Regions from separate parts of the Homo sapiens genome. Here all the other regions are linked to region 3. The links come from fine-mapping of genetic effects on gene expression. A gene starts in region 3. Each other region holds a variant in brackets. All regions are shown on one strand. Distances are between the middles of the regions.

Region 1 (8,106 bases), 32 kb before region 3:
ATATATATGGTGTCATATTATACATGTAACTCTGAAATTTACACAAGAGGCAGTCAATTCTAGACATCTAACACCTCACCAGGAGCTGTTCTTAGTGAAAACTCAGGGAGGAAAAACAGGGGCACTAATATTTATCACAGTTCCTGTAGGCACTAGACACTGCACTAAACTACTTATCACAAATCTCAGAGGTCTCCGATTTGAGCCAAAGTCATATTTACATTCGGGTAAACCGGTAATATATTCCTCACTGTAGTCTACTTAAAATAATAATTTAATAAGCCGAATAATCCTATGAAAAATAATAATAAACACACTCACACTATTAAGATGATGTAGTGAGATACTGACTCATTTTATTTCCAGCGGATTTCCCTCCCTTGTTCTAAGAAGGACACCAAACTTTGTGTTCTCTCACGAGAAGAGGGTTGCAGTGGCTCACATCTGTAATTCCAGCACTTTGGGAGGCCGAGGTGGGAGGATCACTTGAGTCCAGGAGTTCAAGACCAGCGTAAGCAAAGTGAGATCCAGTCTCTACAAAAAAAAAAAAATTAGGCCAGACGCAGTAGCTCACGCCTGGAATCCCAGCTCTTTTGGAGGCCGAGGCAGGCAGATCACTTGAGGTCAGGAGTTCGAGACCAGCCTGGCCAAGGTGGTGAAACCCCGTCTCTACTAAAAATACAAAAATTAGCCCAGCATGGTGGTTGCACACCTGTAATCCCAGCTACTCGGGAGGCTGAGGCAGGAGAATCGCTTGAATCCGGGAGGCAGAGGTTGCAGTGAGCCGAGATCGCGCCACTGCACTCCAGCCTGGGTGACAGAGCGAGACTCCATCTCAAAATACATAAACAAATAAAATAAAAAATTATCCAGGCATGGTGTCATGCACCTGTCATCCTAGCTACTCAGGAGACTGAGATGGAAGGATTGATGGAGCCCAGGAGGTCAAGACAAGCCTGGGCAACATGGCAAAACCCCATCTCTACAAAAAATACAAAAATTATCTGGATATGGTAGCATGTGCCTATAGTCCTAGCTACTCAGGGGGCTGAGATGGGAAGATCAGTTGAGCCCAGGATGTCACGGCTGCAGTGAGCCAAGACCGCCACTGCACTCCAGCATGGGTGACAGAGTGGGACCCTATCTCAAAAAAAAATGTTTAAAAAGAGGGTTGATTAACATGGAAGAAAGCAGAAGTAACTCCGAAAACAACCCTCATTTCTGGCTTTGTTTTTCAACATATTATTATTCTGGGACATGTATGGGGTCATCCCCAAGGACAAGAGGAGAAACACAAGTATCTCAAAGGGAGGAAGGGCAGAGCAGTGACAGCCAAGGGGAGCAGAAGAGTCCCCAGGACTAGAAATGAGCCAGAGACTGGCAGACCCCACAAGAATAGAAGACTCACGCCTCCCCTCTTACAACACCCAGGGAAAGTGACAGTGCTTAAGAGGGAAAGGACCTCATGGTGGACACTCGGTCTCTTGCCTGAGGCTCCCAGCATAGCCAGGCCCCCGTCTCCGACCTCAGCACAATAGCAGCCAAGCCCCCTGTTTCCAAAACCCCAACACATGGACACAATGACCCTAACTGCAGTGATCCAAGTATAAGACTAGTGAGCCTTGCTGGGCGCGGTGGCTCACGCTTGTAATCCCAGCACTTTGGGAGGCCGAGGCCGGTGGATCACGAGGCCAGGAGATCGACACCATCCTGGCTAACATGGTGAAACCCTGTCTCTACTAAAAGTACAAAAAATTAGCTGGGTGTGGCAGCTTGTGCCTGTAGTCCCAGCTACTCAGGAGGCTGAGGCAGGAGAATCGCTTGAACCCTGGAGGCAGGGTTGCAGTGAGCCGAGATCGCGCCACTGCACTCCAGCCTGGGTGACAGAGCAAGACTCTGTCTCAAAAAAAAAAAAAAAAAAAAAAAAGACTAGTGAGCCAAGGGAAGCCCAGTCAGGAGGATCACTTGAGGCCAGGAGCTCAAGACCAGCCTGGGCAACGTAGCAAGACCCCATCTCTACAAAAATGTAAAAATTAGCTGGGTGTGGTGCTGTACACCTGTAATCCTAGCTACATGGGAGGCTGAGGCAGGAGGATCATTTGAGCCCAGGCGGTCAAGGCTGCAGTGAGCTATGATCACACGACTGCACTCCAGCCTGAGTGACAGAGCGAGACCCTCTTAAAACAAATTTGGAATCACTGTGAGCCATCTCTGGACCACTGCCCTCTGATGGCTGAGCTGAAACTTTCTCCAGACCTGTTGGGCTGTTGGGGCCCTGCAGCTTTAATTTGATTCAGAAAACCCACATCGGATAATGTGACATTGCTTGCTGGCACGGGAGTGTACTGGGCCCTGTGCTAAGTTCTTCACGAGCACCATCTCATTTAACCCCATAATAAAGGCATTTCTGTTTTCCTCCTCTTCTAGCTGAAGAAAACGAAACTCTGGGGAGTGAGGTCAGGCAGCGAGCCAGTGGTGGGAAGGAAACTGTACTCCAAGGGTATCTGATACTGATTGAAGGCTGTGCATAAAATAATCCCAAGTTATGATGTCTACCTGTGTCAACTATGTTTTCCAGCTGCAAGTCACAGAAGCCCAGTGCATAAAAGCCCAGAAGCTCTTATGTTTTTACTTTTTATACATATATATATTTTTTGTTTTGTTTTTTTGAGACAGTCTCGCTCTGTCACCCAGGCTGGAGTACAGTGGCGCAATCTTGGCTCACTGCAACCTCCGCCTCCTGGGTTCAAGTGATTCTCCTGCCTCAGCATCCTCAGTAGCTGGGATTACAGGCGCGCACCACCACGCCCGGCTAATTTTTGTGTTTTTAGTAGAGACGGGGTTTCGCCATTTTGATCAGGCTGGTCTCGAACTCCTGACCTCGTGATCTGCCTGCCTCGGCCTCCCAAAGTGCTGGGATTACAGGCGTGAGCCACCCCGCCTGGCCTTCCAAAAGTTTTTACAGCTGTGGCCGTGTTTGTGGACATTCAGCATGGAAAAGCAAGTCTGTTTCACGGGTGTTTCAAGCAAAACACGGGATTGAGTCTTTTCAGCCCTGGTGGTTAATTTGGCCACGTCACCGTCACCATCCCTGAACCAATCACTGGTTGCCTAGGGAGAAGGAGTGCACTGATTGGCTCAACCTCAGTTCTAGACTCAACCCCCTTGAGCTTGGAATTAATGGGATTCCCACCAGCATTTGGCTGAGATTCTGTCCCTCAAGATAGGATTACGATGTTATTGACTCAAGAAGGGAACAGCTAATGGTGGAGAGGAAAAAACTCCACTGCGCTTTTTATGTGGTTGAAAGTATGAGGGCCGAGAGCGGTGGCTCGCCCCTGTAATCCCAGCACTTTGGGAGGCCGAGGCGGGTGGATCACGAGGTCAGGAGATCAAGACCATCCTGGCTAACACGGTGAAACCCCGTCTCTACTAAAACTACAAAAAATTAGCTGGGCGTGGTGGCGGGCGCCTGTAGTCCCAGCTACTCGGGAGGCTGAGGCAGGAGAATGGCATGGACCCAGGAGGCGGAGCTTGCAGTGAGCCCAGATCGCGCCACTGCACTCCAGCCTGAGCGACAGAGTCAGACTCCATCTCAAAAAAAAAAAAAAAAAAAAGAAAGTATGAGAACTCCCTGGAAAGAATTCATGCTAAAGGTGCTTGTTCAGCTCAAATACAATGGATCAGAAATGAGGGGTGGCCAGGCAAAGCAGCTTACGCCTGTAATCCTAGTACACTGGGAGGCTAAGGTGGGAGGATTGCTTAAGGCCAGGAGTTTGAGACCAGACTGGGCAAAATAGTGAGACTCTGTGTCTACAAAAATTTTAAAAATTAGCCACGCGTGGTGGCTCGCCTGTGGTTCCAGCTACTCAGAAGGCTGAGGTGGGAGGATTGCTTGAGACTAGGAGGTCAAGGCTGCAGTGAGCTACGATTGCACCACTGCAGTACAGCCTGGGCAACAGAGCGAGACCCTGTCTCAAAAAAAAAAAAAAAAAGAAAGGAAAGGAAAGGAAGGGAAGGGAAAGGGGAGGGGGAGGGAGGGAGGGAGGAAGGAAGGAAAGAAGGGCTTTCATATTAGAAGGGCACACTCAGAACTAGCTCTTCCCTTTAGCCATTCCCCTTCTTTTTGCCTTGGTCATGGATGTGATGACCGGAGCTGAAGCAGTCATTTTGTGGCCAAGAATATCACAGAGACA[C/T]GAGAACTGATAGCATTAAAATGCTTACACCAGCTAGATAGGAAAGATGAGTTCTGTTGTTCCGCAGCACTAGTTAGTGAGTGACTATGGTTCACCGTAGCTTATTGCATATTTTCAGAAAGCTAGGAGGATTTTGAATGTTCACAACACTGAGGCCTGAAAGTTTGAGGTGATGAATATGCTAATTACGCTAATTTGATCATTGCACATTGTATACACATATTGAAATATCACTGTCTTCTATAAATATGTACAATTATTACATGTCAACTAAAAATAAAAGGAAAAACTGCTGAAGCAATGACAGAAACTACCTACGTCTGGGTATCTTTTGATATCTTTCTGTCTAATCCTCTTCTGAATCGTTGTGTCTCTTGTGTCTCTCTTCACTTCAGTACAAAGACTGGTGAGAAAAACAAATTTTTACTGTTTAGGTATTTGTTAAGTACAAATGTGGGCCAGGCACAGTGGCTCACACCTGTAATCCCAGCACTTTGGGAGGTCAAGGTGGGCAGACCATTTGAGGCCAGGAGTTCGAGACCAGCCTGGCCAACATGGTGAAACTCTGTCTCTACTAAAAATACAAAACTTTGCTAGGCATGGTGGCACGCACCTGTAGTCCCAGCTACTTAGGAAGCTGAGGTGGAATGATCACTTGAGCCCAGGAGGTGAAGTTTGCAGTGAGCCAAGATTGCACCACTGTACTCCAGCCTGGGCAACAGAGGGAGACCCTGTCTCAAAAACAAGTAAAAATATGGTCCGTAAACCTTCAACATCAGCATTACCTGGGAGCTTATTAGAAATGCAGACTGGGGCCGGGCATGGTGGCTCACGCCTGTAATCCCAGCACTTTGGGAGGCCAAGGCGGGTGGATCACAAGGTCAAGAGATCGAGACCATCCTGACCAACATGGTGAAACCCTGTCTCTATTAAAAATACAAAAATTAGCTGCATGTGGTGGCAGGCACCTGTAATCCCAGCTATCGGAAGACTGAAGCAGGAGAATCACTTGAACCTGGGAGGCAGAGATTGCACCACTGCACTCCAGCCTGGTGACACAGTGAGGCTCTGTCTCAAAAAAAAAAAAAAAAAAAATGCAGGCCAGGCACTGTAGCTCATGCCTATAATCCCAGCACTTTGAGGGGCCGAGGCAGGAGGACCGCTTGAGCCCAGAAGTTTGAGACCAGCCTGGGCAACATAGCGAGACCCCGACTCTACAAAAAAAATTAAAAAGAAAACAAAAAATGCAGAATCTCAGGCCTGCCCCAGATTCCAAATCAGAATCTACAGGGTCCTCAATGGATTCACAAGCACATTCATGTGGAAGAAGCGGTGGTTTGGGTATTATAAGAGTGTGGTTGAATGCAATCCAAGCAATATACATAGGCTGCCTGAACCCCCCAAGATTGGATTAAATGCCATTTGAGGCACCAGCAGTAGTGGGAAATGATCATAGGCAGTTGGAGTGAGAGACAAGGAACACGGCACAGTAGCCAGGAAGACCGGTGTGTGGTGCGCTTGGAGATATATTAAACACCCGTACATTCTTTACTGTGTTCCAGGGACCATTACAAGCACTGTGCAAATATTAGCATGTTTAGTCTCCTTGGCAGAGTTAGGAATCATTTCACAAGTGCATAAACTGAGGCATGGATAGAGTAAGTCACAGAGCTGGTAAATGCCAGAGCCAAGATGGAAACCCACTCGATTTATTTCCAGAGCCTGTGCTCCCTTCCTTGAGGTTTCCCTAGGGTCTTTGGGGAGGTTTTTTTTGTTTGTTTTTTTGGCAGAGTCTTGCTCTGTCGCCAGGCTGGAGTGCAGTGGCATGATCTCAGCTCACTGCAACCTCTGCCTCCTGGGTTCAAGCGATTCTCCTGCCTCAGCCTCCCAAGTAGCTGGGATTATGGGCATGTGCCATCACACCTGGCTACTTTTGTATTTTTAGTAGAGACGGGGTTTCACTATGTTGGCCAGGCTGGTCTCGAACTCCCAACCTCAGAGATCTGCCCACCTTGGCCTCCTAAAGTGCTGGGATTACAGGGGTGTGCCAACACTCCTGGCCCTTTGGGGAGAATTTTAAGGGAGCTGAAGAACCTACAGAGCGGGTATTGAATGGATAAGTGTTTCATGTTTCTGTTTTTTACCCACCTAGTCAGTGTGATTTGGGAAGCATGGGTTAAACATTGATTATCTCATTTAATCTTCAAAACTTCATTCCATCAAATCATATCTGTTGAGCACCAGTGTGTATGTGCCATGAACTGGGGATACACTGATGAACTAAGTCCTATTCGTGCCTCCACAGACTTAGTGAGGAGAGAGACAGGCAAAGAATTCTCACATGGTGTGAAAGTGGGCAGCACTACAGAGCACAGAAGAGAGACAATCAACCCAGGAGGACTTCCAGGAGGAAGAAAAGAGCCAGATGAGACCAAAAGGATGACTAGGAGATATTCAGGCAAAGCTGGGTTGAGTAAAATGTGCTCTTAGACCAGGCACGATGTCTCACACCTGTAATGCCAGCAGTTTGAGAGGCCAAGGCGGGAGAATTGCTTGAGGCCAGGAGTGCCAGACAAGCCTGGGCAACATAGCAAGATCCCATTTCTACAAAAAATTTTTAAAATGAGCTGGGCATGGTGGCGTGCACCTGTCATCTCAGATACTTGGGAGGCTGAGGTGGGAGAATCGCCTAAGGTTAGGATTCCAAGGCTGCAGTGAGCTATGATTGCGCCACTGCACTCCGGCCCAGGCAACAGAATGGAACCCTGTCTCTACCAAAAAAAAAAAAAAAAGCTTCTGAGAAAATAACAAATACAAAAGCCCAGAGATGGACAAGAGAGCACTGAGCTGAAGGGCCACAGATACCATTTCTTTAACAGTCAACCCTGAGGACTTGAGGGGTAAGAATTATTAATTTCCATTTTACAGATATGGACACCGAAGTTCTAAGAAGCTCAGCAATGTGCCAAGTGCTAGTGTTACACAGGAAATAAGTAGCAGAGACAGGCTTTAAATCTAGCTCTGATGCCAAAGGCTATGTTCCTTCCACCATGCTTGATTCTGCCCCTTCCAGAATCAGGGACCCTTTAGGTTCTGGGTGCCCAAAGTTTTTGACCCACAGTAACTCTAGTATCTGGTAATAGCTGGGATCAAAAGGTGCCCCAGAGGCTGGTCAAGGTGGCTCACACCTGTAATTTTAGCACTTTGGGAAACTGAGACGGGAGGATCACTCAAAGGCCAGGAGGAGTTCAAGACCAGCCTGGGCAACATAGTGAGACCCTGTGTCTGAATTTTTCTTTTTTTTTTTGAGACAGAGTCTCACTCTGTTGCCCAGGCTGGAGTGCAGTGGTGCGATCTTGGCTCACTGCAATCTCTGCTTCCCAAGTTTAAGCAATTCTCCTGCCTCAGCTTCCCAAGTAGCTGGGACTACAGACGCATGCCACCATGCCCGGCTAATTTTTGTATTTTTAGTAGAGACAGGTTTCACCATGTTGGCCAGGCTGGTCTTACGAACTCCTAACCTCAGATGAGCCTCCCCCCTTGACCTCTCAAAGTTTTGGGATTATAGGCATGAGCCACCGTGCCCAGCCTATGTCTGAATATTAAATAAATAAGTAAGTGGTGCTCCAGGGGGTTCCCTCACACTCTTCTCTTTCTCTTGCTGCACCCCTGAACCCTAATGACCTATGGATCTTCGTGGTAGAGGTGCCATATTGGCTGTGCTCAGTAACTAGGCTCAAAGTGCTGACCGCTGTGCCTGTCTGGCTGTCTTAGCCAGTGAGATGCTGTCCTTAGGCAATAGCCTACCTATATGTTTCAGCCGATCCCTGACCCCACACCTCTAGACATTCTCCACTAGCCAGCATGTTGAACATCTTTTCTCTTGCTTCTTTATAGCAAACCACTTGTT
Region 2 (8,106 bases), 72 kb before region 3:
AGAATTCTCTTGAACTTTGTTTAAAAGCACCCTGAAATTTGAGCTTCTTGGGAGCATTTGCTTCCAACCATTTTCTAAATTGAAATTGCATTCCACTTCCCTAAGACCACAGCCTTTTTCTAAGACAGGATTATGGGAACTCTGAACTATCTAAGCAGAAGTTGTGTGTCTGAGAATAAAACTGGAATGAACAAATCTATAAAGCAATAGAACAATAACCCCAACAAAGACAGCATGATTCACATTGCAAATGACAGGAAGAAAAAATAAACAAGGGAGCGTTCACCTCAGAAAAGACAACCACGATGACAATGATGAGACCTGAGATGACAAAAATAAAAGGACAGCAAGCCCTGTGGAAAACAAAGCCCTTCGGAATCGATTTTTAAAATCTAGCTACATCCTGTTTCCAAGAGACAAGCCTAATGCAAAGTGAATCAAAAGCATTAAGTGGAAAAAAGTGGGGGTGATCTAAAATACATCAGAAATACAAAGGAAATAGAAGAGTAATACTAATTTTAAAAAATACTTCTATTAACTGCCAGGCGCGGTGGCTCATGCCTGTAATCCCAGCACTTTGGGAGGCTGAGGCGGGCAGATCACCTGATGTCAGGAGTTCGAGACCAGCCTGGCCAACATGGTGAAACCCTGTCTCTACTAAAAATACAAAAATTAGGCAGGCAGGCATGGTGGCGCACACCTGTAATCCCAGCTACTTGGGAGGCTGAAGCACGAGAATCACTGGATCCCAGGATGTGCAGGTTGCAGTGAACAGAGATGGCACCACTGTATTCCAGCCTAGAGTGAGAGAGCGAGACTCTATCAAAAAAAAAAAAAAGAAGCCTAGTTAACGTGATAGGCATTACTTTAGACTAAAGGACTGTACTTTAGATTGAAGACCTCTCTGAAGAGATAATACTTTGAGCTGAGATCTTAGAAAGAAAATTATTAACTTTTTTTGGCAGGGGCAGACCAAGACTTTCTCTGTGGCCCAGGCCGGGGTGCAGTGGCGCAATCATAGCCCACTGCAGCATCCACCTCCCAGGATCAAGTGATCCTTTCACCTCAGCCTCCCAAGTAGCTGGAACCACAGGCATAGCCACCACACCCAGCTAATTTTTTAATGTTTTGCAGAGATGGGGTCTCAATATGTTACCCAGGCTGCCATGTGCACTCAAATTTGGTGCACTCAAATTCCTGGCCTCAAGCAATCCTCCTGCCTTGAACTCCTAAAATGCTGGGATTACAGGTGTGACCCACTGCACTTGGCTTATTAGCCAATGTTAACATATTAAATGAATCTATATATTGCTAGGCAGAGCAGCTTACAAAATGCCAGAATGCATAATCAAACTGGACAGGCTCAATGAATGATTACACTGTGCTTAATGGCTAAGCTCAACACCTTGATATAGCTTTATGATTTGCAGAAAATTTTTAGTAATAGTCCCTATAAGAATCACCTGTAGACCAGGTACGGTGACTCACGCCTGTAATCCCAGCACTTTGGGAAGCCAAGGCGGGCGGATCACCTGACATCAGGAATTCGAGACCAGTCTGACCAACATGGTGAAACCCCGTCTATACTTTAAAAATACAAAAATTCGCCAAGCATGGTGCTAATGTCTGTGGCATGCACCTGTAGTACCAGCTACTCCAGAGGCTGAGGCAGGAGAATCACTTAAACCCAGGAGGCGGAGGTTGCAATGAGATGAGATCGCACCACTGCACTCCAGCCTGGGTGACAGAGTGAGACTTCTTCTCAAAAAAAAATTAATAAAAAATAAAAAATAAAAAAACACACAACAACAGAAAAGAATCACCTGTAATTTAAAGTAAATTTCAGTAATTTTACTAAATTACTAATTTTAACCTAAAACTCACCAATTTTGGACAAAATCAGACACATAACCAAAAACATTCTGGACAGAATATTATTTCACGGTAGATGGTATAATTTCTCCCAAAGATAAAAACATTTATGATCATCTATGAGGTAAAGAAAAGGCTGGGCACAGTGTCTCACGCTTGTAATCCCAGCACTTTGGGAGCCCAAGGTGGGTGGATCACTTGAGCCCAGGAGTTCAAGACTAGCCCGGGCAACATGACAGAACCCCATCGCTACAAAAAATACAAAAATTTAGCTGGGCATGGTGGCAGACGCCTGTGTTCCCAGCTACTCAGGAGGCTGAGATGGGAGGAACACCTGAGCCCAGGAGGTAGAGGCTATAGTGAGAAGTGATCGTGCCACTGCACTCTAGTCTAGGTGACACAACAAGATCCTGTCTCAAAAAAAAAATTTGAAAGGCGGGGGGGAACACTGATAGAAAAAAAGATTTTGTCAAAAAACATGAAATTCTGCTTTGTGGTTTTAAAGTATTTTCACTATAATCGCCATTTATTTTTATTATAGGCCTTAGATAAGGGGAACAGTCTTTTAAGAGTTATTCCTGGCCAAGCATGGTGGCTCATGCCTGTAATCCCAGCACTTTGGGAGGCCAAGGCGTGTGGATCACCTGAGGTCAGGAGTTCGAGACCATCCTGGCCAACATGGTGAAACCCCGTCTCTACTAAAAATACAAAAGTTAGCCAGGCGTGGTGGCACATGTCTGTAATCCCAGCTACTCGGGAGGCTGAAGTAGAAGAATTGCTTGAACCTGGGAGGCGGAGGTTGCGGTGAGCCAAGATCGTGCCACTGCACTCCAGCCTGGGCGACAAGAGTGAAATTCTGTCTCAAAAAAAAAAGAGTATTTCGGTAGAAATATAAGAATTGTTGACAAAACTAAAATTGAGCTAAAGATTAACAAACTATTCTCAGTCTGAACGAACAAAATACAAAAGAAACAGGATTTAAATAACAGAATTAATAAATGTTAGATAATAGATACATAGCAAGAAATATAGGCCTGGTGCCCTGGCTCACACCTGTAATCCCAACAGTTTGAGAGGCCAAGGCAGGAGGATCACTTGAGGCCAGGAGTTTGAGACCAGCCTGGGCAACCTACGGAGACCCTTGTCTTTACAAAAAATTTTTAAAAATTAGCCAGGCATGGTGGTGAGTGCCTGTGGTCCCAGCTACTC[A/G]GGAGGCTGAGGCAGGAGGATCACCTGAGCCTGGGAAATGGAGGCTGCAGTGAGCCATGCACTACCACTGCACTCTAGCCAGGGTGACAGAACAAGACCTTGTCTCAAAAAAAAAAAAAAAGAAAAGAAAAGAAAAGAAAAATGAGGCCGGGCGTGGTGGCTCAGGCCTGTAATCCCAGCACTTTGGGAGGCCAAGGCAGGTGGATCACCTGAGGTCAGGAGTTCGAAACCAGCCTGGCCAACATGGCAAAACCCCGTCTCTACTAAAAATACAAAAAAAAATTAGCTGGGCATGGTGGCGCATGCCTGTAATCCCAGCTACACAGGAGGCTGAGGAAGGAGAATCGCTTGAACCCGGGAGGCGGAGGTTGCAGTGAGCCAAGATCGTGCCACTGCACTCCAGCCTGGGCAACAGAGCGAGACTCCATCTCAAAAAAAAAAAAAAAGAGAGAGAGAGAGAAAAAGAAGTACATATGCTTTTCAAAAATACATAGAACATATATTTAAAATGATAATATATCAGGCCAAATAAAAACTTAAAAAAATTCCAAAGGCAGAAATTGCACAAGTCAAATTATCTGTTAAAAACAAACTATAAATAAATAACACCAGGTTAACAAAAAGGGCAAAATATTTAGAACTTTTAAAAATCATTTATAGAAATTATTTTGGGGGAAAGAGGAAATTAAAATGGCAGCTTCTGTTTATGTACAAAACAACAAAAGGAACCCTACCTTTCAAAACTGATAAGATGTAAACAACCCTGTAATCAGAGGCAAAATTGTTATGTTAAGTGTTTCTATTAAGAAAGAATTTTAAAAATAAAATGTTTCACATAAAAGAAGTATGAAAAAGAACAAAATGACCCAAAGTAGCAGGTAGACAGAATCAAACCTAATAAAAGCAGACATTACTGAAACAAATAATAGAAATAAATGTTAAATAAAACCATGACCTGGGTCTTTGATAAGATCAATAAAATAAAACTCTAGAGAGGCGGGGCATGGTGGCTTACACCTGTAATCCCAGCACTTTGGGAGGCCAAGGCAAAAGAATCACTTGACCCCAGAAGTTGGAGAACGGCCTGGGAGACATAGCAAGACGCTATCTTCTACAAAAAATACAAAAATTAGCCAGGCATGGTGGTGCATGACTGTGTTCCCAGCTACTTACTTGGGAGACTGAGGCAGAAGGATTGATTGAGCCTGGGAGGTCAAGGCTACAGTGAGCAATGGTCACACCACTGCACTACAGCCTGGGTAACAGAGTGAGACCCTATCTCAAAAAAAAAAAAAAAAAAAAAAAAACAAACAAACAAAGAAACAAACAAACAAAACCTCTAGAGAGACTTATCAAGGAAAATAGAGCACATATTTCAAAGTTTGGAAATAAAGGCCGGGCAGGCGGCTCATGCCTGTAATCCCAGCACTTTGGGAGGCCGAGGCGGGTGGATCACTTCAGGTCAGGAGTTCAAGACCAGCCTGGCCAACATGGTGAAACCCCGTTTCCATTAAAATACAAAAAGTAACCAGCCATGATGGCACGCACCTGTAATCCCAGCTATTTGGAAGGCTGAGGCAGGAGAATCGTTTGAACCCAGGAGGCAGAGGTTGCAGTGAGCTGAGATCGTGCCACTGCACTCCAGCTTGGGCGACAGAGCAAAGCTCCATCTCAAAAAAAAAAAAAAAATGGAAATAAAAAATGGAGTTTAGCCAAAAATGCAGTGGAGACTTAGAAAGCTGTAAGAGAATATTTTGTCAATTCTATGCTAATAACATTGCATTTTTGAGATAATTTTATGCCACTTTTTTTTTTAAGCCAAGTTATATGGTGAATGTTGCTTACTAGTAGATTTCCTAAAACAGCATTTCCTACATTCCTAAAATATGCTGGGTTTTCTTTGGTACTATCTTATTTAAGATAAGATATTCATAAGTGAGTTTTGTTATATAGTTGTTCTTTGTGACATGATTTTCAGGTTTTGATGTGGCTTTGACAAAAAGTATGAACATCTTTTATTTCTCCGTGCCTGGATACAATTTATATAGAAGCAGAATTGCTTATTTCTTGGCTATTTGGAAGACTTTATCTAAAACTCCTGTGGGTCTGGTGAATTTGGGGTGGGAAGCTGGTTAACATTTACAGTTTTGTTTCTGCTTGCTGTTTTATTTCAGAGTTCTAAAACTGTGGACAATTAGTTACATTTTTCTAGAAAATAATCTACTTCATTCAGATTTTCAAATTTCATTGCACAGTTTTGCAAGGTACAAAGCCATTTCATTTCCTCTTTGTTATGATATTTCCTCCACTCTGTTTCTTTGTGTTTGTTTGTTTGTTTTTGAGGCAGAGTCTCACTCACTCTGTCCCCTAGACTGGGGTGCAGTGGCACGGTCTTGGCTCACTGCAACCTCTGCCTTCCCAATTCGAGCAATTCTCCTGCCTCTACCTCCCAAGTAGCTGGGATTACAGGCATGTGCCACCATAACCAGCTAATTTTTGTATTTTTAGTAGAGACAGGGTTTCACCATGTTGGCCAGGCTGGTCTTGAACTCCTGACCTCAAGTGATCTACCTCGGCCTCCCAAAGTGCTGGGATTACAGGTATGAGCCACAGAGCCCCACCCACCCTGTTTCTAATGTTGTGTTTTTGAGCTTTCTTCCTCTTTTTTTCCTGATTAGTTGACTTTTCAATTATTTATTTTACTCTAACCAACTCACCCCAAAGAGTTTGCTCTTACATTAATTAATTCTATTTTTTTGTGTATTTTCTTTTCTTTTTCTTTTTTTTTGTTTTGAGTCAGGGTCTCACTCTGTCACTCAGGCTGGAGTGCAGTGCAGATCATTGCTCACTGCAACCTCTGCCTCCCTTACTCAAGCGATCCTCCCACCTCAGCCTCCCAAGTAGCTGGGACTATAGGCGTGCGCTACCACACCCGGCTAATTTTTGTATTTTTTGTAGAGTTGGAGTTTTGCCATGTTGCCCAGGCTGGTCTTGAACTCCTGAGCTCAAGCAATCCACCCGCCTCAGTCTCCCAAAGTGCTGGGATTACAGGCACTTTGCAGTAGGACCCATTGCACCCCACCATTATTTTATTTTCTAATTCGCCCATTTATTATTTTATTCCTTCTTATTTCTTAGAATAATTTGTTGTTTTTCTAACTTCTTTGAGTGAATACTAAACTCACTTACTTTCTTTGTCCTTCTCTACTTATGCCTTTGTTTAGGGCTCTGTTCTACTTAACAATCCAGTTTTAGTCATAGGACAGAGGTTTTGCTATGTATTAATTTCATTTTGTTATTCAAGATGTTGAGAAATTTGGGTTTAAATTTTTTCTTTGATCTGTCTGTCTCTGTGTCTCTCTCCTCGTGCCCTCAAAAAACGCTCCCTTTTACCAAGTGGTGGGTGGTAGAATTTTCCCCTTCCAATTTTGTTGGTCTTGCTCTGTTACCCAGACTGGCTGCAGTGGTACAAACATGGCTCACGGCAGCCTCTGTCCCCTGGGCTCAAGCAATCCTCCTCCTTCAGCCTCCCAAGTAGCTGGAACTACAGGTGTGCACCACTATGCCAGGATAATGTTTGTATTATTTGTAGAGACAGGGTCTTGCTATGTTGTCCAGGCTGGTCTCAAACTCCTGGGCTCAAGCAATCCTCCTGTCTTGGCCTCCCAAAATGCTGGGATTACAGGCATGAGCTATCACACCCAGCCCTATCTTTCTTGTACTGTGACTAGAAAGTGGTCTCTACTCTTTCTCCATTTTGAATTTTGTTAAGATTTTCTTCATGGCCTGATACATCATCTATTACCATGAAAATTCCATAGGCACATAAAAGATGTATCCTCTATTATTAGTGCATAGTATTCGACATAAACTACAAAGTCGGCCTTATTAAATATACATTGAGATCCTCTAAATTTTTATTTTTAATTTTTTTATCTACTGCAAGCTGGGAGAGGTGAGCTATAGTCATATGTTAGTCTTGGTGTCTGTTGGAAGCTGATGCTGTAATTATTTTGATGCCATTTTATTTTATTTTATTTTTTTAACTTTTTATTTCTGTAGGTTTTGGGGGGAACAGGTAGTGTTTGGTTACATGAGTAAGTTCTTTAGTGGTGATGCGTGAGATTTTGGTGCAGCCATCACCCAAGCAGTATACACTGAACCCAGTTTGTAGACCTTTATCCCTCACCCCCTTCCTACCCTGTCCCCCTGAGTCCCCAAAGTCCCTTGTGTCATTCTTATGCCTTTGCATCCTCATAGCTTAGCTCCCACTTATGAGTGAGAACATACGATGTTTGGTTTTCCATTCCTGAGTTACTTCACTTCGACTAATAGTCTCCAATCCCATTCAGGTTGCTGCGAATGCCATTAGTTCATTCCTTTTTATGGCTGAGTAGTATTCCATCATTCATATATATATATATCAGATTTTTAATCCACTCGTTGATTGATGGGCATTTGGGTTGATTCCACATTTTTGCAGTTGTGAATAGTGTGAATTGTGCTGCTATAAACATGCGTGTGCAAGTTTGATGCCATTTTCTGTTGTGTTCTCACATTGAAGCTTTAGCCTAACTCTTAGTGCCCTTTGTCATTATAAAATGCCCCCATTTGTCTAGGTTGCCTCCCTTAACCTTAGATTCAACATTGTCTGATATTAATATCATGAATTCAGCTTTCTTTTTCTTTTTTCTTTTTTTTTTCTTTTTTTTTTTTTTTTTTTTGAGACGGAGTCTCGCTCTGTCGCCCAGGCTGGAGTGTAGTGGAGCGATCTCGGCTCACTGCAAGCTCCGCCTCCCGGGTTCACGCCATTCTCCTGCCTCAGCCTCCCGAGTAGCTGGGACTACAGGTGCCCGCCACCACGCCAGGCTAATTTTTTGTATTTTTAGTAGAGACGGGGTTTCACCGTGTAAGCCAGGATGGTCTCGATCTCCTGACCTCGTGATCCACCCATCTCGGCCTCCCAAAGTGCTGGGATTACAGGCGTGAGCCACCACGCCCTGCCCAGCTTTCTTCTTCTTAACC
Region 3 (8,106 bases):
GAGAAGTTAGAGAACATCTTTGTCCTGATAACTTCAAAAGCCACAGGAACAAAGACAAATGGAGAAAAAGGGCTTATTTAAAATTAAATTTGTACAGCGTGTTTCTCTTTACAGGACCTTGTTTCTGGTTCCATTCCTAATGGATTGATGCAAGTAAAATGAAAATGACAACACTAGCAGTTTCATTTATTTATTTATTGAGAAAAGGTCTCACTCTGTCACCCAGACTGGAGTGCAGTAGCATTATCTTGGCTTACTGCAACCTACCCCCTGCCCCAGCCTCAAGCGATCCTCCCACCTCAGCCTCCTGAGTAGCTGGGATTACAGATGCACACCACCACACCTGGCTAACTTTTGTATTTTTAGTAGAGATGGGGTTTTGCCATGTTGCCCAGGCTAGTCTCGAACTCCTGAGCTCCAGCAATCCATTTGCCTCGGTCTGGCAGATTTAAAGCCAAATACAATATGAAGCCTGTTTCCCTCCGCACTGATAACCCACAAATGTAACCATAAATGTAACCCTCCAGCCTGAGACCCCCTCCTCTCCCCCTCCCCAGCTCCTCTCTCCATTCTCAGGTGAAGCTTTACATTTTCAAAGAAACATTCTTTGTTGCATAATCAATGTTGTGTTCCTTTGTTTTACACTTTCTTAGAGCAACATTCCTATCCTTCTGTGCACTTGCCATAGTTTGTAATTATACACTTTTTGTTTGCTTAAGAAAAAAAAAAAATCGGCCAGGCACGGTGGCTCATGCCTAACCCCAGCACTTTGGTAGGCCGAGGCGGGTGATCACTTGAGTCAGGAGTTCGAGACCAGCCTGGCCAACATGGTGAAACCCTGTCTCTACTAAAAATACAAAAATTAGCCAGGTGTAGTGGCACACGTCTGTAATCCTAGCTGCTGGAGAGGCTGAAGCAAGGGAATCGCTTGAACCCGGGAGGCAGAGGTTGCAGTGAGCTGAGATCATGCCACTGCACTCCAGCCTGGGTGACGGAGCAAGACTATGTCTAAAAAAAAAAAAAAACAAATCTGTCTGCCTTGCTAGACTTCATCCACCACTGTAGTTCCTCACAAGAACCAGAGAAGCCAGTCCTAGCACAGTGCCTGGCACATAGTAGGTGCTCAATAAATACTGTGTGAGTGAATTGTCATTTTGGCATTCAGGGGTACACAGGTGAGACAACGGTTAAGGTTTAAATCTGAGAGTAATCTGCATTCAGAGAGTACTTAAATACAAGAGAATAAATGAGATTACCCATCCTAAAGGGAGAGTAGAGAAGGGGGAAGAACAGAAGTCTGGAACAAAGCCTTGGGAGTGGGGAGATCTCCAACATTTATTTGATATAAAACAGAAGATGTTAGCAAAAGATACCAAAAAAAAAAAAAAATGGCTAGAGAGGTAAAAAGAACTCCAGAAGAATATACTGTCAGGATGGCCTAGCAAAGAGATTCTCTTAAGAAGGAGGGAGAGTTAGGTTGTGGCAAATGTAGCTAAGAAGTAAATCAAGATGAGGACAGACATGTTTCCATTGAGTTTGGCACCCTCAAAGTCATTTGCGACCTTCATAAGAGCAGTTTTGCAGGAGGGATGGGGATATCAGGTTAAAGAGAGCTGGGAGAAGGAGGAGAGCCAGTGGAAGGTGCTTGTGTTGAACAGTTTCCCAAGAAAGCATTGTTGGGAACGAGAGCAGAAAAATGGAGCTGGAGAGGAATGACGCATCAAGGGAGTTTTGGGCTTTTTGCTTTTTAATGAAAGTTACTAGAGTTTGTGTGGTGATGGGAAATATTCAGTAGAGAGAATGATTACTTAGTAAAAAGAAAAGATAGTAACAGGAAAAGATCCCTTAGAGGGTCCCACATAAGGAATCAGTGCTGATCTTATATTGTCATTTTTCTTCGATGTATGCACCAAGTTTAAGTAAGAGATAATTTAAAAGTGACTAGCATGACCTCATATAAAACACTCTACATTGCAGCCCAGGAGGGCTCAGATGGGATGTCCAATCACTGTCAACAAACCTTCTGGAAATCACATCTTTTTTTTTTTTTTTTTCCCTAAGGTGGAGTTTCACTGTTGTTGCCCAGGCTGGAGTGCAATGGTGTGATCTCAGCTCACTGCAACCTCTGCCTCCTGGGTTCAAGCGATTCTCCTGCCTCAGCCTCCCAATTAGCTGGGATTACAGGCATGCACCACTATGCCTGGCTAATTTTTTATTTTTACTACAGGCCGGGTTTCCTCATGCTGGCCAGGCTGGTCTCAAACTCCTGACCTCAGATGATCTGCCCACTTCGGCCTCCCAAAGTGCTGGGATTACAGGCATGAGCCACCGCGCCTGGCCAAGAAATCATATCTTATTAGCTTTGCTGGAGCTGGGAATTAGTTCCAGGCTTTCTCAACCTTGGTGCTATTGGCATTTTGGTTCAGATACTCCCGTGTTGTAGGGGACTGTCCTACGCATCGTAGAATATTTAGTAGAATCCCTGGTCTGTAGCTATCAGATACCAATCAGTAGCATCCAGTGTGACAACCAAAAAGTTCATTGCTAAATGTCCCCAGGGGTAGGGATGGGGGCAACATTGTCCCAATTAAGAATCACTGAGTCATTAAAACCTAAAAAAGTCTAATAAAAAAAAAATCAGCCAATCTTAACAGCTGTGCAAATGTTGATAAATATGACTGTTTTCATTGCCTTATGTTGTTGTGAAAAATTATTCCTAAACCTGGTATGAAAGCATATTGTGCCATTACGTATATGTTCATATTTTTAAACTCCTAATGAAACACCATAGTAACTTTTAAACATTTTAAGTAGAAAGGATTATGAAAGAAAAACAAATATGTGTGTAGGTAAATGAACCTCAGGGATGATAGCAGGAAAAGGAAAGTCACTAGCATTTATTCGGTGCCCACTACATTTTATATTTTGTAAACCTGATTTTTTTTTTCAAAAAAGTGTTTTTTATATGCTCATCGCAAAAAAGAAAAAAACAGATACACTAAAAGAAGAAAATGAAAAAAAGTCATAATCAGTTAACGTTTTGGTGCATATGTTTCATGACTTTCTGTGCATTCATTCACTAGCTTAACCTATCGGAGAGGACAGGAACCCAACATGTCTAGGGAAGTTTTGTTTGTTTTTAACGGGAGAGATTCAAGCATGTTGTAAAGCCAGTTGAAGCTGGGCGCGGTGGCTCACGCCTGTAATCCCAACACCTTGGGAGGCCGAGGGGGGCGATCACCTGAGGTCAGGAGTTCAAGACCAGCCTGGCCAACATGACGAAACCCCGTCATTACTAAAAATACAAAAATAGCTAGGCGCAGTGGTGCGTGTCTGTAATCCCAGCTACTTGGGAGGCTAAGGCAGGAGAATTGCTTGAACTCGGGAGGCGGAGGTTGCGGTGAACGGAGATCGCGCCACTGCACTCCAGCCTGGGAGACAGAGCGAGACTCCGCCTAAAAAAAATGATAATATAATAAAAAAATAAAAAAAAAAGCCAGTTGAAGAACTTAGGTTAGAAAAAGGAGAATGGGATGATCCACAGAGTGGGGTTTCTGAGAAAGTAAAGGTTATAGATTTTAAGCACAGAGGAGGAATTATCTTTAAATTAGAAGAAAAAGCTTGATGAGAGGTTGGAAAGAACACACGCAAGTGAAAATATGTATCTTACTGTATCTACATGTATGTGTATTGTTGTATCTACCTGCAGATATGTATGTCTTATTGTATCTACATGTAGGTATGTATGTATACTTTTAATGTACACATATGCATCTGTGTCTACATATATACATATCTTAGTCTATCTACATGTATGTATCTTACTGTGTCTACACTAAGATGTTTCTTACTGTGTGAGCTACGTTGGAACCTGCTTTTTCATTTATTCTATTGCAACCATTTCCTCCATGCCGGGATTATTCCTCCACATCATTTTTACAGTGTCCTAATACATGCCAGTAGCTGTTTTTGAAGCCATCTAGTAGCGCTGGACATTTTGGCTGTTTGCAATTTTTCACCATCATCAATACCACAGCTTAGTATCTCGAAGGTGAAATATTTGCAGATACCCAGAATTATTTCCTGAGCAGAAAATCCGTGCAGGCGGAACTGCTGAGTCAAAGGTCGGTGGATAAAAATCGCTTTTAAGCCTCACAACCCGCCTCAGGTATGCATTCTTTACCTGAGGAGGAACAGAGAAGCAGAGAGGTTAAATAACTGGCCCAAGGTCAAAAATAATTAGAAGTGGCTGAATTCAAAAGCCGCGCGGGCTCATCAGGCTGCAGTTGGGGTAAAATTTGCGTTTTAGGCAATTTTTTTTTTTTTTTTTTTTGGCGTGTGTCAGTGGGGGAGGGGCCGGGCGGCGGGTAGGAAACTTGTGTCGCAGCAAAGAAGGAGGAGGAGGGGAGGGACTCCCCTCCTCGGTCAGACCGGAGCCGGCCGCACCGAAAAAGGTTGGACTCGGGACTCCGCAGGCCCCCCCAGCCACTCCGCGGGGCGCCTCGGAGGCTGTGACCTCCAGGGAGGTCCGGCTGGGTGCAGCGTGACACGCCGGGGCGGTTGCCAAGGACCTGCCCAATCTGCGGGTCCAGTTGCTAGGGCCTCCATCTTGGGGGCCAGTGGCCGTGGCGCCCCCGGAAGGGGTTGCCGAGTGGGGCATTCACTTCCGGTCTGGGGCCTGCGGCGGCGGCGGTGTCGGCGGCGGCGGCGGCGGCGGCGGCGGCGGCGGCAGCGGGTCGGTGTAGAAAATGGCGCTGGTGCAGCGGCTCGGGCCTCTCCCCGCGGCGCTGCGGAGGGCTTGAGGCTCGCGAGCCTCCTTCGCCGCGCCCCACTTGCTCGTGCACTTTACACACATGAGGTGAGCGGAACAAGGGCCTCCCTCCGGGCGGGAGGAGCCGCGGGCGCTGCCGCAGGGCCCGCAACCCGCGGCGGCGGCAGCAGAGGCGGCGGCGCCGGGCGTCCCCGAGACTTCGGGCCTCGGCGGGAGGGCGCAGGCTGCGTTGCTGCGGAGGCCGAGCGGGCGGCCCGGGGGAGCCTCGCTGCGCCGCGCCGCGGGGGCCAGGCCGGGGTTGCGCCTCGCCCGCGCCGCGGGACCGCAGTCCGGGCTGCAGCCCCGCAGCTTTGTGAGTCCCCCTCCCCCCGTCCTCTCCCCTCCCCCATCCGGCCCCGGCGCGAGCCTCTGCCGCAGCAGCTCCGTTTTCACGCGCATCTCGTTTTTGTGTGTGTGTTTTTGTTTTGTTTTTGTTTTTGTTTTTTTGTTTCAGAGAATTGGAAGCTAAAGCTACCAAAGACGTAGAAAGAAATCTTAGCAGGTAAGATGGGCGAGCTTTCCGTCTCCCGCCCCACGATAATCGTATATTTCTACTCCGATTCGCCTTTTCTGGGTTGAGAAGTTCCCCCGTGACATTTTCTTCCGCACCCGGAGAGCAGACATTCGGGAGAAGCGGCCTGGGGGAATACTGGAGGGATTGCGGGGAGATGCGTAATTACGCGTGTGTTTCTTTCTTTAAAAAAAAAAAAAAAAAGCGCAAAGCAATTCTTGTAAACTTAGTTAAAGCATTCTCACCCTTTTAGAATTTAATTAGGGGACTTGTGCATTAATTACTATTGTAAATGGTTGCAGGCATTGTGTGACTCATGATTGAGGCGGCCCTTATGGCGGGCTGTCAAACTGTTTTGGCTTCCCCGTTATTACTTTGTAGCTCAAATTGTTGCTTTTATAAAAAGATACTATGTGTTCGCATTCCCCCCCGCCCCCCCCCCCCCCCCATACATTGTAGTCAGGCGGATTCTGTTGCATTGGACACAGTTTTGTCCTTGAACTTTACCAAGCATAAGCTGCGTTTTGTTTTCCTTCGAAACTCCATTTCTGTCCATGTTCGGTGTGTGCTCTTTTTATCAGCTGGTAAAATAATTAAAAATCTTTTCTCCAGAAGAGGTTATCGTTCCTGTTGGGCCCTGCTGCTTTTGCATCACCGTGAAGGGAGAATTTTTTTTTTTTTTTAAACGATGTCTTTATGGAATGGAAATATTTAGCTTCATTGAGCTGTAATTGCTTAAGCATCAAGGAATTGTACTGTATTTAACTCCTTTTCACATTCATTTTCTTTCCTACCGTCTTTTCCTTTCTTATTCCCCTTTTTCTTTTGCATCATATTGGGACACTCAGGGAAACTTAGCCAATTAACCAAATCCGTGAATAGCTTTCTTTTTTTCTTTTTTTTCACTTGTTGAAAATAAAATGAAATTTCTCCTATCTCAGGTTTTAATGTAGTTTGCTCTTGATGATTGCGGGTTTTAGGTTTACATTGGGGTTTTTAACACTCACATTTCAAATCGTCTGAATATTTTGCACCGCGTAGAATTGTTCCAAATTGCTGGCCTATTGAGTTTCATAAGATACTAATCTGTTCAGGTGATCGTTAAAGAATGTGTTCAGATGGTGAAGGATAGGCATCATTGGTTTACCCAGTAAGGGATTCTCTGTTACTCAAAATAATTATGGGATCATTTAAAGGAAATTAAGTCTGACATCACTGACTATTTGTGGTATATTTACATAAATTTTGTCAAAATCTAGTAAGGAAATGTTAAGATATGAAACCATTAAAGAAAACAGGTTGAGCCATTAAGGTGTAATATCAGCAGAACAGAGCTTAGAGGTCTGTTTCTCCTTCCATTTTTGTTTTATCAGGTAACTATATCAGTATAATTCCTATGAAGGTGCTCTAGTACTTAATTAAAAATTGTCTGTGCCACAGGTATAATTTTAATATTAGGTAGAACTCGAGTCTGGGTTGGCTATTTATCAGAGTTTGAATTCCAGCTCTGCTACTTGCAATATGACCTTGACTCTTGGCAAGTCACTTAGCCTCTCTGTCCAATCTATAAAACGAGCGGCGTGGGCCAGCCAGTTGCTGAGGTCTGTTAGGCCCTTTGGGTTACATAAAAGGAGTAAAGTGCTGTCCGTGTTCACAGAGGGCATGTACAGTCTAGTAGAAAGACTATCATAAATGCATAAATAACAGTAGTACTAGGTAGATGACGTAGGAATCAAAAGATACCATCCCATTCATGTGCTTGAGAATATTCAGTCGGTCAGAAGGCATGAAAGGAAAAACAAATATCAAAGAGATTGTAAGGCAGTGTGTACTAAGGATCCAATGAGAGGGGAGCATTTCTTGCAGGTTAAAAGTGTTCTGAGGAAGGAGAGAGGTGATTAGGTGGGCAGATGCTTCCTTCATCTCCATCTCTAGCTGTGTTTCCTTTTTCACAAAAAAGAATGTATCTGTCTTTACCCATAGTGCTCTCTCCAGGAAATCAAGGCATTGTATTCATTGAGTAACCATTTTTTGAGCATTTTCGATATTTCAACTGTGGGACTGGGCACTAAGCCAGGGAAGAATGTAAGTAGTTAAATTTATTGATTGCTTACTATGTGCCTGGCACACTTTTCCTAAGATTTTACATGGACTCATCTGATCCTTGAAAAACCCTGTGAGGTAGGTAGTATTGTTATCTCCGTTTTACAGATGGAGAATTTGATGTATAAAGAGGTTAAGTAACTTGGAGGAGACCATATCACTGGTAATTGGAGTAACTTTTTAGGCTTCGAACTTGCAAAATTTGAAAATTTCTTTTGGTAGGCGGGACCCACAGATGCATGCAATACTTCTAGATCAGTTTTTTCATCTGGGCACTTGACATTTTGGACCAGATAATTTATTATTTTGAGGGTTGTTCTGTGCATCACAGGATGTTCAGCATCCGCAGTAGCACTCCCCGTCCAGTTGTGACAATCACCAATGCTTCCAGATATTGCTAGATGTCCCTGGGAGTGGCGCAGAATCGACCCTGGCTGAGAACCACTGCTCTAGATCTTCATTAGGAATTGTAACGTGAAAGCCTCCAAACTTTTAGATGTTGAGTTAATTTAAACATCTTTTGGTCGAGTGCTGTGGCTCACACCTATAATCCCAGCACTTTGGGAGGCCAAGGCAGGTGGATTGCTTGAGGTCAGGAGTTCGAGACCAGCCTGGCCAACATAGTGAAACCTCATTTTTACTAAAAATACAAAAATTAGTTGGGCGTGGTGGCATGCGCCTG
Region 4 (8,106 bases), 57 kb before region 3:
GCTGGGCGTGATGGCACATGCCCATAGTCCCAGGTACTCAGAAGGCTGAGGCAGCAGAATCTCTTGGGCCCAGAATTTTGAGGCTGCAGGGAGCTAGGATTGCACCACTGCACTCCAGTCATGGCAACAGAGCAAGACCCTGTGTCTTAAAACATTACATATATATAGGCTGGGTATGGTGGCTCACGCCTGTAATCCCAGCATTTTGGGAGGCTGAGGCTGGAGTATCACCTGAGGTCGGGAGTTCAAGACCAGCCTGACCAACATGGTGAAACCCCCTCTCTACTAAAAGTACAAAAATTAGCCAGGCGTGGTGGCGCATGCCTGTAATCCCAGCTACTTGAGAGGCTGAGGCAGGAGAATTGATTGAACCCAGGAGGTGGAGGTTGCGGTGAGCCAAGATTGTGCCAAGCCAAGATCATGCCATTGCACTCCAGTCTGGGCAACAAAAGCAAAACTCCATCTCAAAAAAAAAAGAAAAAGAAAAAAAGAAAAGAAAAGAAAAATAAATTACATATATATATGTATATGTATATTTCAGCGCTTGCACTTTACTCAGTGAATAAGTGCAATTTACAAAGCCTTCATGATCTGGGCCAGTCCCTCGGCTCTACCCGACTTCCCCCACTGGGCTTCAGTGCCTCTGAACTACTTAAGCAGTCTGAAACTGGCATCACGCTTGCCTCCATTTTTATCACCAAGGCCATGCTTTCCACCTGGCATTGGCCACCGGAACAATTAGACTCAGCAGAGATGCAGTCTGCTCTAGGGCCTACTTCTTACCCTGCCTTTCCCGCCCCCTCTGAGAAGAGGTAATTATTCACCCTTAATTAAGGCCAGCCATGACCTTAGATGGGAAAGAACATGGAACATTTGATGTCATTGAATTACTCAGTGAGAAAGTCATTCTTCCTTTGGTTGCTTTGCAGCACTTCTGATTAAAAAGGAAAAAGTTTCATTTTGTGCTAGTGTGCCTTTAACACCTCTCTGAGCCTTGCCAACCTCCCTTTGAACAGAGTGAGCCTGAGTCTCTGAAAGTTCAACAGGAAAAGGGTATTAGCTGGAATGCGACGACACAATTAGTCTCGTTGTTTTTATTTTTATGGGTTTTTTTTTTCATGGCAAGTGATGCTAATTTCACATTTTCCACAGTGCGATCCAGATTTCTTCAAACCACATTTATTTGACCAATGAAAGGGGGATCAATTTAAAGAGAAATAAAGCCTTAAATAAATAACAATGTGAGTGGTACTCAGGACTAAAATAGAGAGGGGAAACTTGAGGGATGAGTTTGGGAAAATCCTGAAATAGATCATCTGTACAATCTCTTCTAATAAAAATCCTGGCGGGGCATTCACACTTATAATCCCAGCAGTTTGGGAGACTGAGTTGGGTGGACTGCTTCAGCCCAGGAATTCGAGACCAGCCTGAGCAACATAGTCTCTACAAAAAATTTAAATATTAGCTGAGTGTGGCAGCGTGCCCCTGTAGTCCCAGCTACTCAGGAGGCTGAGGTGGGAGGATCACTTGAGCCCAGGAGGCAGAGGCTGCAGTGAGCTCAGATTGCAACACTGCACTCCAGCCTGGGCAACAAGCAAGACTCTGTCTCAAAAAAAAAAAAATCCTATAGCTCCCATAGGATTCCCTGGTTGTTTGTTGAGTCATGCCTTTGTTGGACACTAGATTCACAGTCTATGAGGGCAGTGACTGTGTCTGGGCAGTGACTGTGTCTTCTCAGCCTTTGCTCCCAGCTCCTTACAAAAGTGCTGGCAAATTCAAGCACTCCAGTACCATTCGTGGGAGAGGACTGAGTCGCCAGTGATTCATCATCCTGTCCTCAGCTGAATTGTGTAATCCCCATGGTGCTGGCAGGAGGAGGAATAACAGTACTTGTTTTAGTAGTAAGAGTAGTAATAGTAATAGTAGCACCAACAGTAATAGAAGTAGTTGTTATAGTAATAATAGCAACCATTTACTGGGTTCATTATATGAGCCAAGTATTAGGCTTAATGCTATATGCATCCACTCATTTTGTTCTCGTTATGACCCTATGAGGCAGCTACTTTTTTTTTTTTTTTTTTTTTTTTTTTAGACAGAGTCTCACTCTGTCACCCAGGCTGGAGTGCAATGGCGTGATCTTGGCTCACTGCAACCTCTACCTCCCAGGCTCAAGCAATTCCCATGCCTTAGCCTCCCTAGTAGCTGAGACTACAGGTGCATGCCACCATGCCCAGCTAATTTTTGTATTTTAAGAAGGGACGGGGTTTCACCGTGTTGCCCAGGCTGGTCTTGAACTCCTGAGCTCAAGCAATCCACCCACCTCGGCCTCCCAAAGTGCTGGGATTACAGGCGTGAGCCACCACACCCAGCCAGCTGTTCTTATTATCTCCATTTTACAGATGAGGACATTGAGGCTTAATGTGGGAAAATAGTTTGCCCAAAGCCACTTAGCTGGGAAGTGGCAGAGCTGGGAGTCTAAGGTCAGTCTCACTCCCAGGTTGGTGCCCTTCAGGACTGCAGAAACAACCCTTCCCGCAAGGGTCTCCCAGATGCAATGCGTTGCACCTTTCTGGAGGCTACGGGGCTGCTGTTTCAGCAATTCATGTATAATTTAAGGGAATTTGGAAGCAGTCTGGATATTTAAATGATGTCTTAGTAATGTAAAAATCTGCTTCTCTTCAATCTGTATTCTTTTCAAATTCAGTAGACTATCTGAGAACTCTCCTGTCTGTACTCCCTCTCCAAATACCTGCTTGGCCCCACCTGTGCCCTGCCCAGCCTCCGATCTCTCTCATTTCACTGAAGAAATGAGATTCGGATGGAAAAATACTGGTACAAGCTTGACCGAGCTTCTCTAACAGACACTGTGCATCACGCATCAGCTGCTGCTGTTGCTATGGTGACAGCCACAATTTCTCCCAGACAGCTTGGGTCTGAAGGGAGGGTGGACCCTTGGGGAACAAGTGGATCTCTCCAACCTGTCAGTCCCTCTCACCTTGCCCGTTTCTCTCACCTCCCCCACTCCCGCCAGCCCCCACACTTCCTTACATGATGCTGACAGGGGGTACCAGCACCCCCAGGCCATCGTAATTAGCATCTGGCCGTGATCCCAGTCTCCTGGCAGCACATTCCTCATCTTCCTCGCCAGCCAATCTCCTTTCCCCAGCAACCCTCCGACAGCACTGCAGCAGCTGCCGCACCGACAGCCTCCGCGCCAAGGTCACCCACCACCAGCACCAGCAATGACGAAGCACCCGCCTGCTCCCTGGGTGGACATGACACCGTTAATGCCTCACTGTGTCTAAACCATTTGGGGTCAGAAAATTGTGATTCTAAAAAAAAGAGAGGTTGTCCTTAGGAAGATGGGTGAGGCTAAACTCCAGTTGCTGGAGGGGCTAAGAGATTCATACGGCTTAAGTTTCATCGCTTAAGGTCTCCAGGAGAGAGGGAACTGAGCAGGAGGGGCATAAGACATTCCAGAAGGGTGAGGAAAGAATGAGACAAGTTTGCGCATTGACGCGGCTTGGACTCTGGGGTGCTGAAGATGCTGGTGGTGATGAGGTGGAGGATGCTGGTTGGAATGATGGTGATGGCAATGGCTCATTTATTCAGCATCCGTGATGTGCCAGACACTGCACTAGGCGCTGTGCAGGCACTATGCCCTGCAGTTCTCGCACTGCCTGGGGAGTAGAATGTGGTACCCATGTGGTGGCTACTGTCACTGCGCCCATTTCACAGATGGGGAAATCGAGCCTAGAAAACACCCCGAGGAAACAATCACACGAATCCAAAATGTGAGATGTTTCCATGACAACTAGCCTGGATGAGCTCTTAAAAATATCAATGTCAGGCCAGGTGCAGTGGCTCACGCCTGTAATCCCAGCGCTTTGGGAGGCCGAGGTGGGAGGATTGCTTGAGCCAAGGACTTCAAGACCAGCCTGGGCAACATAGTGAGACCCTGTCTTAATAAAATTAAAAAATAAAAATCAGTGTCACTTACAAAAGGGTAGAAATCTTTTCTAGAAAAAAAGAGTAAAGAGACAAAAACCAAATGCAATTTCTGATCCTACATTGGATCCTGACCAGAAAAATTAAAACAGTCATAAAAAGACATTTGAGGGACAG[T/C]TGGTGAAATTTTAATATGGACAGCATGTGAGATTGTGTTAGGAAATCATTTTTAATTCTCTTCAAGAGTGATTCGGGAGTTGTGTTTGTGTAGGAAAGTGTTCTTTGTTTATTTTATTTTATTTATTTATTTTTTGAGACGGAGTCTTGCTATGTCACCCAGGCTAGAGTGCAGTGGCGTGATCTCGGCTCACTGCAAGCTCCGCCTCCCGGGTTCACGCCATTCTGCTGCCTCAGCCTCCCCAGCAGCTGGGACTACAGGCGCACGCCGCCACGCCTGGCTAATTTTTTTTTCTTTGTATTTTTAGTAGAGATGGGGTTTCACCGTGTTAGCCAGGATGGTCTCAATTTCCTGACCTCGTGATCCGCCCTCCTCGGCCTCCCAAAGTGCTGGGATTACAGGCGTGAGCCACCGCGCCTGGCCCTTTGTTTATTTTTTACTTGTTTATTTTTTTTGAGACAGGGTCTCACGAAGTCACCCAGGCTGGAGTGCAGTGGTGTGATCACGGCTCACTGCAACCTCAACCTCCTGGGCTCAGGCGATTTTCCCATCTCAGCCTCCTGAGTAGCTGGGACTACAAGCATGCACCACCATGCCTGGCTAATTTTTGCTATTTTTTGTAGAGACAGGAGACTTGCCATATAGCTGAAGCTGGTCTCCAACTCCTGGGCTCAAGTGATCCTTCCACTTCAACCTCCCAAAGTGCTAGGATTACAGGCATCATGAGCCGCTGTGCCTGGCCTGTTCTTCTTAGATGATACAGGCTGAAGTATTTAGAGAAGTGTCATGATGCCTGTAACTTACTTGTAGATATACTTACATACATATGCATGTATTTACATATAAATACAGCAAAATATTAACAATTTTTGAACCTAGATAGTTCATCATTGTGTCATCAATAGTACTATTCTGGCTGGGCACAGTGGCTCATACCTGTAATCCCAGCACTTTGGGAGGCCAAGGCAGGAGGATTGCTTGAGCCCAGGAGTTCAAGATCAGCCTGGACAACATAGTGAGACCCTCATCTCTACAAAAAATATTTTAAAACTTAGCCAGGTGTGATGGCACACACCTGTAGTCCCAGCTACTCAGGAGGCAGATGTGGAAGAATTGCTCGAGGCCAGGAGTTTGAGACCAGCCTGGGCAACAAAGCAAGACTCCCTCTCTACAAAAATTTTTTAAAAATTAAAAATAAAAATAAAAAAAGATAGTACTATTCTTTCAACTTTTCTGTGTGTGTACAAACTTTGATAATGAGAGTCCTGAGGGTAAGTAGAAAAGTAAGTAACTTGACCAAGATTGAAGGTCACACAGCTATCAAATTTCAAAGTGAACTCAAATCTGGTCCACTGGGCTTCAAAGCTATGTTCTGGAACTGTGTTCCACAGCCTTCCCAGAGACAGGGCTTCGCTCACCGAGGGATGCCTGTAGGTCCACTTTGCAAGGGGCCATGTCCCAGGCAAAGATAAGGAAGTAGATTCTGGCAGGGTGTGAGAATCCCACCAGCTCGAGCAGTGAAACAATCTTCCAACAACTCATTCAGGAAATTTATTTTATTTATTTATGTTTTTGAGACAGGGTCTCACTCTGTCACCCAGGCTGGAGTGCAGTGGTGCAATCACGGCTCACTGCAGCCTCAACCTCCCTGGTTTAGGTAACCCTCCCACCTCAGCCTCCCAAGAAGGTGGGACTACAGGCCTACGCCACTGTGCCCAGCTAATTTTTCTAATTTTTGTAGAGACAGACTTTTGCCAGCCCAGGGCTGGTCTTGAACTCCTGGGCTCAAGCGAACTACCCACTTCGGCCTCCCAGAATGCTGGGATTACAGGCATAAGCCACCATGTCCGGCCTCAAGAAATATTTTCGTGAGAACCGTGTAATGGGCACTAGCTGAAGTGATACAGTTGTCAATGACAAAAGTCCTCACCCTCGTGCAGCTTGGTGCATCCACGTCAGGTAACATTCTCAGAAGAGCTTGGCATCAGATACCATCCAAAACATTTCCATCATAGTTGCAGCAGAGGAAAGGGAGCTGGGAACCATTGTCTCTAATCTATGATCTTTTTTATTTTTCTTTTTTTGAGACAGGGTTTGGCTGTGTCGCCCAGGCTGGAATACGGTGGTGTGATCATAGCTCACTGTAGCCTTGACCTCCTCAGCTCAAGTGATCCTCCACCTCAGCCTCCTGAGTAGCTGGAACTACAGGCTTGTGCCACCACGCCAGCTATTTTTTTATTTTTAGTAGCAACAAGGTCTCGATGTGTTGCCCAGGCTGGTCTCAGTTAAATTAAGTTTAAATTCAATAGAGGATCACTTGAGCCCAGGAATTCAAAGCTACGGTGAGCTATGATCATGCCACTGCACTCCAGCCTGGGTGACAGAGCGAGATTCTGTCTCAAACTATATATAGATATATAAATAAAATAAAATAGTATGAAATGATTCAGCGTGCCCTAAACAGTGAGTTATCAGTTTGCCAGGATGGCATTAATAATCTGGAACTAATTGGAAAGAGACTTTGCAAGTTATAGAATCTGGATTTTAGGTGAAAGTGGGCCATCCTTTCCTCTCCGTTGCAACGGAGTTCCACATAAAAGCAGGCAAATTCAATGTATTGTGACAGAAGCTGAGACTCTGTAAAGTAATTCTTTTAAATATTATTTATTCTCTTACAACACTGCCCCCACCACACACACACACACACACACACACACACACACACACACACACATCTTTGTCTAAGTCTGAACAATCATGTGACGTAAACTTTTCTTAAAGGGATCACAAGAGAGATTATGGAAAGACTGCCAAAGTAACCATCTCTGTCAAGCCATCCAAATTCTCCACCCACCAGGCAGTGGTAGCTCACACCTGTAATCCCAGCACTTTGGGAGGCCAAGGCAGGAGGATCACTTGAACCCAGGAGTTCAAGACTAGCTTGGGCAACGTATTGAGACCACTGTCTCTACAAAAACAAAAATTTTTTTAATTAGCCAGTTGTGGTGGCATGCGTCTGTAGTCCCAGCTACTCAGGAGGCTGAGGTGGGAGGATTGCTTGAGCCCAGGAGTTCAAGGTCGCAGTCAGCTATGATGACACCGCTGCACTCCAGCCTGAGTGACAGATCGAGACCCTGTTCAAAAAACCAAAAACATTCTCCAACCAACACCAATTTTATGTAATTTTATAATCCCAACATGGGGGGAAATAATCAAAGAAACACAAGCTGTGTTGTGGACAGACAGAACACATTGGAATGAATTGCAAGAGAAGTACAAAAAGATATTTTGCATGAGAAATGCTGTGATTCTTAGATAGTACGTGCCTGAATTTCCTAAGATTTCAGGCTGCCGAAGGATACAGATGCATTTTAGCTTTAAAAGAGGCTCTCCAAGCCAGGCACTGTGGTTCATATGTGTAATCCCAGCACTTTGGGAGGCCGAGGCAGGTGGATCACCTGAAGTCAGGAGTTCAAGACCAGCCTGACCAACATGGTGAAACCCATCTCTACTATAAATACAAAAAATTAGCTGGGCATGGTGGTGCACAACTGTAATCCCAGCTACTCGGGAGGCTGAGACAGGAGAATTGCTTGGACCCAGGAGGCAGAGGTTGCAGTGAGGTGAGATCACACCACTGCACTCCAGCCAGAGACTCTCTCTCTCTCTCTCTCTCTCTCTCTCTCTCTCTCTCTCTCTATATATATATATATATATATATATATATATATATATATGCACACAACACACACAGAGGCTATTCAGTATCTAAATGGGGACTCATTTTTGATATGGGAGTACCCACATAGGGTCTAGGAATTCATACCACCTCTTCCTTTGCATTCCTGGAGACCTTTGCTGCTCTGTCTGCTGGAGGTTACACAAGTTCATCATCACAGAGTCCAGGATGTCCCACCCTTGGTTTTTCTTCCTACTCTTTTCCCACTTGTCCCAAGCAATCCTGCTTATCTTGCCTATTA

Evidence for each region.
Region 1: its variant is fine-mapped to the expression of TNRC6A in blood mononuclear cells (TOPMed, PIP above 0.99).
Region 2: its variant is fine-mapped to the expression of TNRC6A in atrial appendage (GTEx, PIP 0.91).
Region 4: its variant is fine-mapped to the expression of TNRC6A in whole blood (INTERVAL, PIP above 0.99).

Annotation. Positions count from the first base shown.
Region 1 is chr16:24,692,751-24,700,856 of GRCh38, forward strand. It overlaps a transcript of TNRC6A not described here. Among named protein-coding and RNA genes, the nearest start is that of LINC01567, 26 kb to the left of the region's middle. The variant C/T (reference allele first, on the strand shown) is at 4,197.
Region 2 is chr16:24,652,955-24,661,060 of GRCh38, forward strand. It overlaps a transcript of TNRC6A not described here. Among named protein-coding and RNA genes, the nearest start is that of LINC01567, 14 kb to the right of the region's middle. The variant A/G (reference allele first, on the strand shown) is at 3,082.
Region 3 is chr16:24,724,989-24,733,094 of GRCh38, forward strand. TNRC6A (trinucleotide repeat containing adaptor 6A) reads left to right here and starts at 4,663. Exons shown (of 25, transcript NM_014494.4): 1 at 4,663-4,858; 2 at 5,265-5,312. The coding sequence starts at 4,854. RefSeq lists a silencer at 4,692-5,001.
Region 4 is chr16:24,667,879-24,675,984 of GRCh38, forward strand. LINC01567 (long intergenic non-protein coding RNA 1567) reads right to left here and starts at 3,184. Exons shown (of 3, transcript NR_122072.1): 1 at 3,049-3,184. It also overlaps a transcript of TNRC6A not described here. The variant T/C (reference allele first, on the strand shown) is at 4,126.